Regions from separate parts of the Homo sapiens genome. Here region 2 is linked to region 1. The links come from fine-mapping of genetic effects on gene expression. A gene starts in region 1. The other region holds a variant in brackets. All regions are shown on one strand. Distances are from middle to middle.

The links.
Region 2: its variant is fine-mapped to the expression of ZNF835 in subcutaneous fat (FUSION, PIP 0.95).

Annotation. Positions count from the first base shown.
Region 1 is chr19:56,669,569-56,674,803 of GRCh38, reverse strand. ZNF835 (zinc finger protein 835) reads left to right here and starts at 3,047. Exons shown (of 2, transcript NM_001005850.3): 1 at 3,047-3,228. LOC105372473 (a long non-coding RNA gene) reads right to left here and starts at 2,825. Exons shown (of 4, transcript XR_936110.4): 1 at 2,373-2,825.
Region 2 is chr19:56,632,825-56,638,059 of GRCh38, reverse strand. The region is part of intron 2 of ZNF71-SMIM17 (ZNF71-SMIM17 readthrough (NMD candidate)); the gene reads right to left. Among named protein-coding and RNA genes, the nearest start is that of SMIM17, 7.7 kb to the left of the region's middle. RefSeq lists a silencer at 1-59. The variant G/ATG (reference allele first, on the strand shown) is at 2,821.

The DNA.
Region 1 (5,235 bases):
CTGCGTGCAAATGCACCCTTTTTATAAGGACAGCTGTCATTTTGGGTTATGGCCCACCCTATTTACTCATTTTAACTTTATTACCTCTGTAAAGAACCTGTCTCCAAATAAAGTCACATTCTGAGGAATAGGGGGTTAGCATTCCAACATATATTTGGGAGGGGGGTGAGCATAAATCAACCCCCAACAGGTAAATGTGGCTTTCTAAAGAAAATTGTCTTAAAAACCATATTTAAAGGAAATGAATATTTGAGTTGTTTCTGTTGTCCATCCTTTGAGGAAAATGTCCCTTCTCATGAAGCTTCCAGAAGGAAGAGGGAAGCACAGAATGCCTCTTGAGGTCTACGAATAAGTAAAATATGAACTGTAAATAAAGCATGTGTCATGGTTTAAGGGCAGCCGTGGGGCTACATAAAGTAATGTGGAATCTCACAATCAATGGCATGTTGGTTTAGTGAAATGCATTTTTTTTCCCATTCTATCTTCACAGATTTCTCTGCTTTTCCAATTATCTAAAAATGATCTCATGCCTATGTTTCCAATGGCCAAGGGAATAATTTAGGAAGGCTAACAGAATTCCTTCAGAGCAGGCACCTTAAAATAATGCCGGCCAATAGTAAATGCCATGTGCATGTCAACTATTAAAATTATTTAAGGCCGAGGTGGAAGGATTGGAGTTCAAGACTAGCCAGGGCAACATAGCGACACCTCATCTCTACAAAAAATAAAAGTTAAAAAAAAGTTAGCCAGTGTGGTGGCACATGCCTGCAATCTCAGCTACTCAGGAGGCTAAGATGGGAGGATCACTAGAGTTGGGGAGGTCGAGGATGCAGTGAGCCGTGATTGTACCACTGCACTCCAGCCTGTGCAACAAAGCGAAACTGTTTCTAAAAAATAAAACTCTCTCCTGCCTCTGCCAGGAGAGAGCTTGTTCCTCCAACCCCAGGAGGCCAGGCAAGCATGGACAGGAGCCAAGGGAGCAGGGTCATGAACTTTTTCATCTTTGCAAAGTGGGCACTTGGCATCAGGGTCCCATCACCAGAAAGCACCAAAGCCCCTGGCACCCCACCCACTCCATCCTACCCAGGGACCCCAAGTAGGCAACTGCTATGGCAGTGGGTCCAGCCCAGGCCGGCACTGCCAGCCTCCTCTCCCTGCAGTAGGCACCAGCTCTACCTCCCCCGGCAGGCAATGTCCTGGCTTCTCAGCCCAGCACCATCTGTTCCCCTAGACTTCTCAGGGGCCAGCCCAGTCTGGGCCACCCTTTCCCTCATCCTCGGCTCCCACACAGGTGACAGGCCCAGCAGATAGCTTCTCTCTGGGAAAGGTTGGATGCTGCCTTACATCCCCTTCTATCCCTCCTCCCATCCACACACACAGGCACCCACCCACACCAGGTCTGCTTGTTTCTCACATGTAGGGAGAGGGGGGGAGACCAACCCCTTTGTGTCTTTTGAAATACGAAGAAAAATGTGTGTTCAGGAGCATGACTCCAGTGCTGGGCTCTTGGGCCCAGTTCAGTCTGTCTTGTCTCAAATCTAGGCACTTTTGCTTCAATTTTATTTTTTTTAAGAAAACAAAAACAGAAATCTGCACTAATTTACCTGGTTCTTAGGAAAACTTTTTTTTATTTTTTACATTTTTTGGTGTCCGTTTGTATTGAATAATTTGCTACATTTGTAAAATGTAAGAGGTATATATAATATATGTATATTTCTAACGTAAAAACAATTTTTTTCTTTTCAAGATTTTTTCTTAAAAAGATGAGAGAAACATATTTTTTCAGGAAAAACAAACTTTAAAAAAAAAAGAGGAGAAATAAAACCTTTTCTCCCCTTTCCCCATCCTCTATCTATCCCTGTTTCCCAGGAACAAATCAAAAGGTGGATTATCTTCTGAAGAATGGAAACTGTTAGTCCAGAATGATGTCTTTTTCTCAATGCAGTGAGTTATAGATTCTCTAGTTTTCTCCCTAGGGATGGGAAGGGGGCATTGACGCAAGCCTGGAGAGGAGCCCGGGGAGCAGGGTCATGAAGTTTTTTCTTCAGTGAAGGAGGAATACAATCAAGGGTTTTGTATTCAGAATGTTGTGCAATATTTTGGAATAGGACATTGGTGTGTTTAGAGATTTTAGTTTAAAAACAAAACAAAAAGATTGATCAAATCTGTACAGTTTCTATTGTTCCAGATTTTTTAAAGTTTGTATTAAAAGCATGATACATAATAAAAATAAATAAATAAATAAAACTAAAAAGTAAAATGAAATTCTTCATCTATGTTAATGGATTTGCCACCTTCTTTGCCATAGACTGGAATGACATCAGCTACCTGAGACCAAAATAAAAGTGTGGGTTGCAAACCCTGGCACCTACCTTTTTAGATTCCGCAGCCTGCAGTAGGGACTTAGCCTGTCTGAACCTCAGCTTCCTTCTTTCTTCTTCTTTTTTTTTGAGACGAAGTCTCGCTCTGTCACCCAGGCTGGAGTGCAGTGGTGCGATCTCAGCTCACTGCAACCCTCGCCTCCCAGGTTCAAGCCATTCTCCCGCCTCAGCCTTCCAAGTAGCTGGAAGTGCATGCCACCATGCTCGGCTAATTTTTGTATTTTTAGTAGAGACGGGGGTTTCGCCATATTGGCCAGGCTGGTCTCGAACTCCTGACCTCAGGTGATCCACCCGCCTCGGCCTCCCTAAGCGCTGGGATGACAGGTGCCCGGACTCAAGTTCCTTCTTTCTAAGCCTGTGGGCTCGGCCTCATCCCCTGAGCAAGAAAAAAGTCCCACCCCTGAGTTACTGGAAGCGCCCACCGCCATGCACTGAGGCTGTAGTGGGCGGGGCTCGGGGCAGCAGCCCGGCGCTCCTCGGGCCCCCAGGGGTCAGCGCCCTGCGGACCTAGCGTGTGCAGACGCTTAGCCTTCTGGGAGTTGTAGTTTCGATGACCCAGGCTTTGCAAGCTTTAGTCGCGGTGCCGGCGAGCGCGCAGCGCCCCCTGGGAGTCGTAGTTCCTAAGAACCAGGCGGGCCCGATGCGCAGGCGCAGTCCACCCCGGCCTGGTGCGCGGGCTCCTCCGCAGCAGCAGAAGTCTTGACCTTAGCTCGTCTAAGGAAGGAGGCACCAGGGTCTGCGTTGGCCCAGGAGGACCCGAGACTGAGTAGAAGCGGAGCCGACTGCACCAGGCTAGGAGGGGGCCGGCCAGCGCGTTCGAAGGTGATACCGGGAGGCGAGAGCAACGGTGTGTAGTGTGCGCGTGTTCCTGCAGGTGTGTGACCGCGTGTGAGCCCGTCCCCGAGTGCCATTGTGTCTGCACCTGTTCACTTAGCGGTGTCAGCCCGTATAGGTGTGTGACTGCCTGTGAGCCCGTCCCTGAGTAACACAGCGTCTGCACCTGGTCACTCGACGGTACCAGCAGGTGCAGGTGTGTGACTGCCTGTGAGCCTGTCACTGCATCTGCACCTGCTTACTCGGCGGTGCCAGCCCGTCACTGTGTCTGTACCTGCTCACTTGGCGGTGCCAGGCCGTGCAGGTGTGTGACTGGCTGTGAGCCTGTCCCTGAGTGTCACAGCGTCTGCACCTGCTCACTCGACGGTACCAGCAGGTGCAGGTGTGTGACTGCCTGTGAGCCCGTCCCTGAGTGTCACAGCGTCTGCCCCTGCTCACTTGGCGGTGCCAGCCCATCACTGTGTCTGTACCTGCTCACTCGGCGGTGCCAGGCCTTGCAGGTGTGTGACTGCCTGTGAGCCCGTCCCCGAGTGTCACTGTGTCTGCACCTGCTCACTCAGTGGTGCCAGCCCAGGCAGGTGACTGCAGGTAAAGGCATGTAACACTTTATCGGTGTGTTATGTGCTCGTTCATGTGAAGCGGTGTCTGCATATCACAGCATGTCACATACACGTGTGGCTGCCTTTGGGCAAGTCTGAAAGTTCTCCTGGATGTGAGGTGTGTGACCCCACGTGTGCATGTCTGGGTGTGCCGCCGTGTAGGCTGGCTCGGCCCGTGTGCCTGCCAGCACAATGATGGGTGACCTGGCTGTGCGAGCCTGTAGAGTGCCGTGCTGTCTGAAGTGTGTGCATCTGCACATGATGGAGACGCTGCACATGTGGGCTTTGGCTATGCTGGAGCTCTATCCACCGAGTGTGACTGCACATGTGTCCAGCCATCCCCTGTGGGTGTGTCCCAGTAATGGCCGGCCTGTGTGGAGCAGGTGGCATGTGTGACCTTGTGCGTCTCTGTGCACCTCTTCACACAGGGAGCTACGTGTGGGGCTGGGTGTGTGTGTAGCTACGTGTGCCCGGGACCCTGTGTGCATGTGTGAGTGTGGCTGCAGGTGATGGCTTCCCACCTGCCTCCTTGCATGGGGGTTAGGAGGGCGACTGTGTGTCCCTGGATATGGGTTTGGGTGTCTCTGCATGTCTGTGTGTGTCTGGGCAGGTATGATTGTGTATGACCCTGTGTGTGTCAGAGTGTGATGTAATGCATGTGTCTTCCTGTGATCTTGTGATATAATAAGAAATATATGTTTAATCTTTATCCCCAGCTCCTGGTACCAGAGCCCCTAAAACCCTTGGAATTTCCTGAGTGACAGGGGTAGAAGGAGTGTCTTCTGCAACTCTTAATAAGCCCCCTGCAACCACACCTGTGTTTATGCTAATGGAGGACTCCTGATAGGCCCCCAAGTACATTTATGCTAATGGAGGACTCCTGATAGGCCCCCAAGTACATTTATGCTAATGGAGGACTCCTGATAGGCCCCCAAGTACATTTATGCTAATGGAGGACTCCTGGTAGGCCCCCAAGTACATTTATGCTAATGGAGGACTCCTGATAGGCCCCCAAGTACATTTATGCTAATGGAGGACTCCTGATAGGCCCCCAAGTACATTTATGCTAATGGAGGACTCCTGATAGGCCCCCAAGTACATTTATGCTAATGGAGGACTCCTGGTAGGCCCCCAAGTACATTTATGCTAATGGAGGACTCCTGATAGGCCCCCAAGTACATTTATGCTAATGGAGGACTCCTGATAGGCCCCCAAGTACATTTATGCTAATGGAGGACTCCTGGTAGACCCCCAAGTACATTTATGCTAATGGAGGACTCCTGATAGGCCCCCAAGTACATTTATGCTAATGGAGGACTCCTGATAGGCCCCCAAGTACATTTATGCTAATGGAGGACTCCTGGTAGGCCCCCAAGTACATTTATGCTAATGGAGGACTCCTGATAGGCCCCCAAGTACAT
Region 2 (5,235 bases), 37 kb after region 1:
GACGCTCTACACAGAATAGCTGGAGAAGACTTTTTTTTTTCCCCCTCCTTCAAAGAACCCATCCGCCTGGGGAAAGCCCTGCTGTTTCCTGGAAACAAAGATCTCTGGGCTGTAGAGATCATGGGATGAAAACAGATGAGGGCAACAACTGCAAAGTCATTTTTAAGTGACAGCTTTTGTTCTTAGGACAGCAGGGCCTGGCTGAACCGGATTGAAATTATTAACATGAAGTTTCCCAAAAAGCTCTGAAGAGGGGGAAAGTACAGAAAGGAAATTCAGAGAAAGGTATGCCCCGGATTCAGGCTGTTGGTTATTCTGGGTTGGGAGAAGCAGTGGAGTGGGGAGGAGAGGGCTATATAAATATATGCGAGTTATTGGCAAAGCCCTAGGTTTTTTTTTTTTTTTTTTTTTTTTTTTTTTTTTTTTTGAGATGGAGTCTCGCTCAGTCGCCCAGGCTGGAGTGCAGTGGCGCGATCTCGGCTCACTGCAAACTCCGCCTCGCGGGTTCACGCCATTCTCCTTCCTTAGCCTCCCGAGTAGCTGGGACTACAGGCACCCGCCACCACGCCCGGCTAATTTTTTTTTTCTTTTTTGTATTTTTAGTAAAGACGGGTTTTCACCGTCTTAGCCAGGATGTTCTCGATCTCCTGACCTCGTGATGCGCCCGCCTCGGCCTCCCAAAGTGCTGGGATTATAGGCGTAAGCCACGGCGCCCAGCCGGCAAAGCGCTATTTTTTATGTTGCAAGCTGGGGTCACAAGAGGGATGTTATTGTAGATTTACAGAAATGCAGCATGGCTACAGTTTCTCATGCTTCCAAATACAACCAATCACATACATTGTAAACTGTGACTGTTATTTTAGTGTCGCTTTAGCTGGTGAATAGACACACCCACCATCTTTTTGTCAGGGTTAGTCTTGAATTATGTGGGTTTTGAATTGTACACCCTCTGCAAGAGTGAGTCCTTCACAAAATCAAATCTCTCTGGAATTGTTGAATGGATGAATAAGTGTTCTTCCCAATGATCTGGTCACCAGAAAAGGCACAGCTTCCACAATCACTCAAGAGACAGACATTCATAAAGCACTCACTACGTGCTGGACATTGCAGGTGACACCCAGTATGCCTGAAGCATATCCTGTATGCCTAATAGGATGATATTCACAACTTTTCAAGGGCCAGAGAGCTTTGAGGCTCTGACTTTGAGCTCTTTGTTTACCTAGAACCACTGTGATATGGCTCTTCACTATCTTTCTATTATGTCCTCTAATGGAGTTGCTGGCCCAGTGAGTTTTGATATTTCAATTTCTCAAAATAAGCTGGAGCTCATTACTTTATGAATATTTCTTTTTGCTTACTGTCTGCCTTGTTTCTAAAATGGTACAGACCCATGATGGTAGGGGCTGTGTGTTTCTAATTTACCTCTGAGCCTCCAGAACCTGGAACGTGTCTTGGCACATACCAGATGGCCCATGAATGTTGTTTTGAAACAGTCGAATGAATGAAAAACGGTGTTTGTAAATGTAAACTATCTCAATGTTTTAATGATGGTAATTCATTAAATTAAAAGGAAAATGAGTGACGTGACCTGAACTGAACTGTGCTCGTCAGTTGGCAGGATGAAGTCTATGATCTGCCAGATCGAGACATCCAAGATCACAGACCCCTGTTGAGTAAGACTTTGCCATAAGACCACTTCATGGGCCAGTGACCTGTTGTTCTATCCTCTGGTACATCTGCTGTGGCCCATAAGGCAGGGTTCTGTGGCACCAAGCAGGGAATCCTATCAGTAGGGACCATCCCACAAGGAGAGGAATCTATTTCATGCTTTTTGGCAACTGCAGGGAATTAATCACATTGTGTGGATGTATCTAGTGTACGTGGCCATCTCCAAACTGTGATCATTTGGGAGCCTCGGACACCCTGGGGCAGGTCAGCTTGTAAATGGCATATCCAGGATTAAACCCAGAGCGATATGTCCCCAAAGACCTTCTTGTTTCACTACTACTAAAAAATTTTCCATTTATTTAAGGTGGGATTGCAAGGGGAAGAAGTATGATTGAAATGGGAAAACTCACCTTGTTATTTAAAACCTAGAAGGATACAATCACTTGGGGGTGTATGGGGTAAATCATACAAGGGCAGCGAGCTGTCAAGTCTGCTTAGAGAAACAGGTTCTCCTAGCCACTTCCAGCCCACAGGGCTTTTCTGCAGTCTCGCTAGAAAAATGATTCCAAAGACAGAATCATTATAAATCAAGTAACATTTATTGAGAGCTTAATGTGTCCTCACCAAGATCATGTTGGTTGAGTGTTGTTATTATACTCATTTTACAGAACAAAATAGATCATCGTGGATGGATATGAAAAGGTCTCCAAGACACATCATTTCATGGGAGGATGGGGGAAGCAAGTTGCAAATCTACAGATGCAGTCTGACATGAATGACGTGAAAACCCAGCAACACATAAAACAATGTCGATATTTTCTGTGGGCACATAGATATGTCTATAAAGTCTTCTCAAGTTAAAAACACAAAAGGTATTTAAAAGAAAAAAAATCACAAGATTACCAGGCTTACCAACATTACATTTGTTCTTTCATGATAAAAAAAAAAAGCGGTAATAATATTAAATGATTACCACATCCAGAAAGTTTGTGAACTCTCTTCAAATCTCAGCATGGCAAAACTCAGATAGATAGATAGATAGATATTTATATTTATATTATATTATATATATATTTATGTTATATATTATATAATATATATTATTTATATAATATATAATATATATTATATATATTTTATATATATATATAT[G/ATG]TGAGTTTTGCCATGCTGATATTTGAAGAGAGTTCACAAACTTTCTGGATGTGGTAATCATTTTATATATATATATATATATATTTTTTTTTTTTTTTTTTTTTTTTTTTTTTTGCTAAGGAGTCCGGCTTACAGGAAGTGCTCAATGTTTTATTTGGGGACCAGGACTTAACAGGGTGAATCTGGTATGTTTGGTCAACCTCAGGATGCAACCTAATTTTTCTTCCTGACTATGATATGCCATGAATGTGATGATTTTCCTTTCAGATGTATTGCTTATAAAATAAAGAAGTTAAGAACTTTGTAAGGAAAAAAGAAGAAAAGCCAAAGATATGAACAATTGTAAGACATATTTCAATGTGAGAAATATTAAAATGTAAATAACTAACAACTCAGCATCAATAAAATATTATTTACTGGCCGGGCACGGTGGCTCAAGCCTGTAATCCCAACACTTTGGGAGGCCGAGGTGGGCGGATCAGCCAAGGTCAGAAGTTCGAGAGCAGCCTGGCCAACATGGCAAAACCCCGTCTCTACTAAACACACACACACAAAAAAAAGCTGGCATGGTGGTGGGTGCCTGTAATTCCAGCTACTTGGGAGGCTGAGGCAGGAGAATCTCTTGAACCCGGGAGACAGAGGTTGCAGTGAGCCAAGATTGTGCCATTGCACTCCAGCCTGGGCATCAACAGCAAAACTCTGTCTCAAAAAAAAAAAAATTTACTTATCACAACTTATCCAATAACAACAGTGCATATCTCATAGTTTGCGGCTGATAGGCATCTGGCATTGTTATTATGGAATGAGTAATAATAACAAGGTTCATTCTATGTATGGGAGAAGTGAGGCTGAGGATCAATGCATACACACACACACCTCAAAAGAATTCTATGCTCTCTTTTCCTCTCAAATCCCTGCTCAGTCATGTGCACTGGCTTGAGCTGGCTTGCTGGAGGATGAGATGCCCAAGGAGGAGAGGCGAGTCATCTCGGACAAGGTTATTCTGGACCAGGCAGCCCACAGCTGACCACAGTTGAACACATGAAGTCAGCTGAGGCCAGAACTATCCAGTTTAACTTAGCCCCTGTGGCCACATTCATGAGCTAATAATGCTTGTTATTTTAAGTCACTAAGTTTTGGAGTGGTTTGTTACACAGCAAAACTGACTGATACGCTTTATATACACAACTGATAATTAGCAGAGCACTACTACTTCTATATAGGTTGCTAACTTATTGAAATGTTTCTGTGAAAGTAGGTAAATAGCTGCTGAGTGAAAGCCCCTGAAGCCCCCTCACTTAAAGAAAACACAAATGAGAGTACACATATATGCTGTCATCGATTGTTCTGTTTGTTTTCATTTAATTCTGTAATTCAGAACTCCTACCATATTCAAATATTCAACTCATTTCTCACCCAGTTGAATCCTGATACATTCAGCCAGTCTTCTAAGGATGGACTCTTGGGTGTTGTCAATTCTTCTAAGCAAAGCATCAGTGAACACTTTGATGAAAGGAGAATGCCTTCCTTAGATACCTATGTAACTGTCTTCTCTTTGCCAAGTGGGTCTCTGCTCAAATGTTACCTTCTTAGAGTGGCCCTCTCTGACCACTGAAGTTGAGGCGGCCTCCCCTTCACTCTCCATTTCATCCCATTCTCTGATCATGCCCAGAAATTAGGAGTGGTGGTTCCATATGGTAAAAGACTTTGGTTTGTTCATTGCTCGGTTCCCAGACCCTGCAACAGTGCCTGGCACAGAATAGGTGCTCAGATGTTTATTGAATGAACGACACCCCGTTCACCCCCAAAGCTTCTTGTTTCTTGGGGTTCCTACTTATCAGAGGGTGCAGAAGTTCTGAGTATTTATATATTAGGCATTCACTCTCTTATTTCCTTTTTTCCACTTTCTTTTTCCTTAAAACAGCTACTCACCCACCACTGAGAGAAAAAAATAGCTCAGGTTCCTTCCTGACCCAAATTTCTCCTCCTCCTTTCCACATGCATCTGCTCACACCAACGTCTGTGTGCTACATTGGATCAACAATGAAAAATGCCAACTTCACTCCTACCTCTTCCTTCCCTCCATTTCTTTCCACCTCTCAACCTCTCTGTAAAACAGGTGATAAGCTATAAATGAACATTTACCTCCCTGTAGGCATCTCTTACAAGAAATTTGGGCCAAAAAGATCCCCCTATGAATTTTCATGCTTTGAAAAAGATTTATTGGGCAAATGAGTACGTATCACGAAGGAAATGGAAAATCTACTGAGCCTCATGGGGTGGTGCTGGGGAGGAGGGAGTAGATGGATGGATATAATTCCTAATATTTCTTCCTGGTCTTGGTAGACAAATAAGCATCAGGAAAACTTGTTCTGATAATAGACATGGAGCTTGGTCATATTTAAACCTTACATC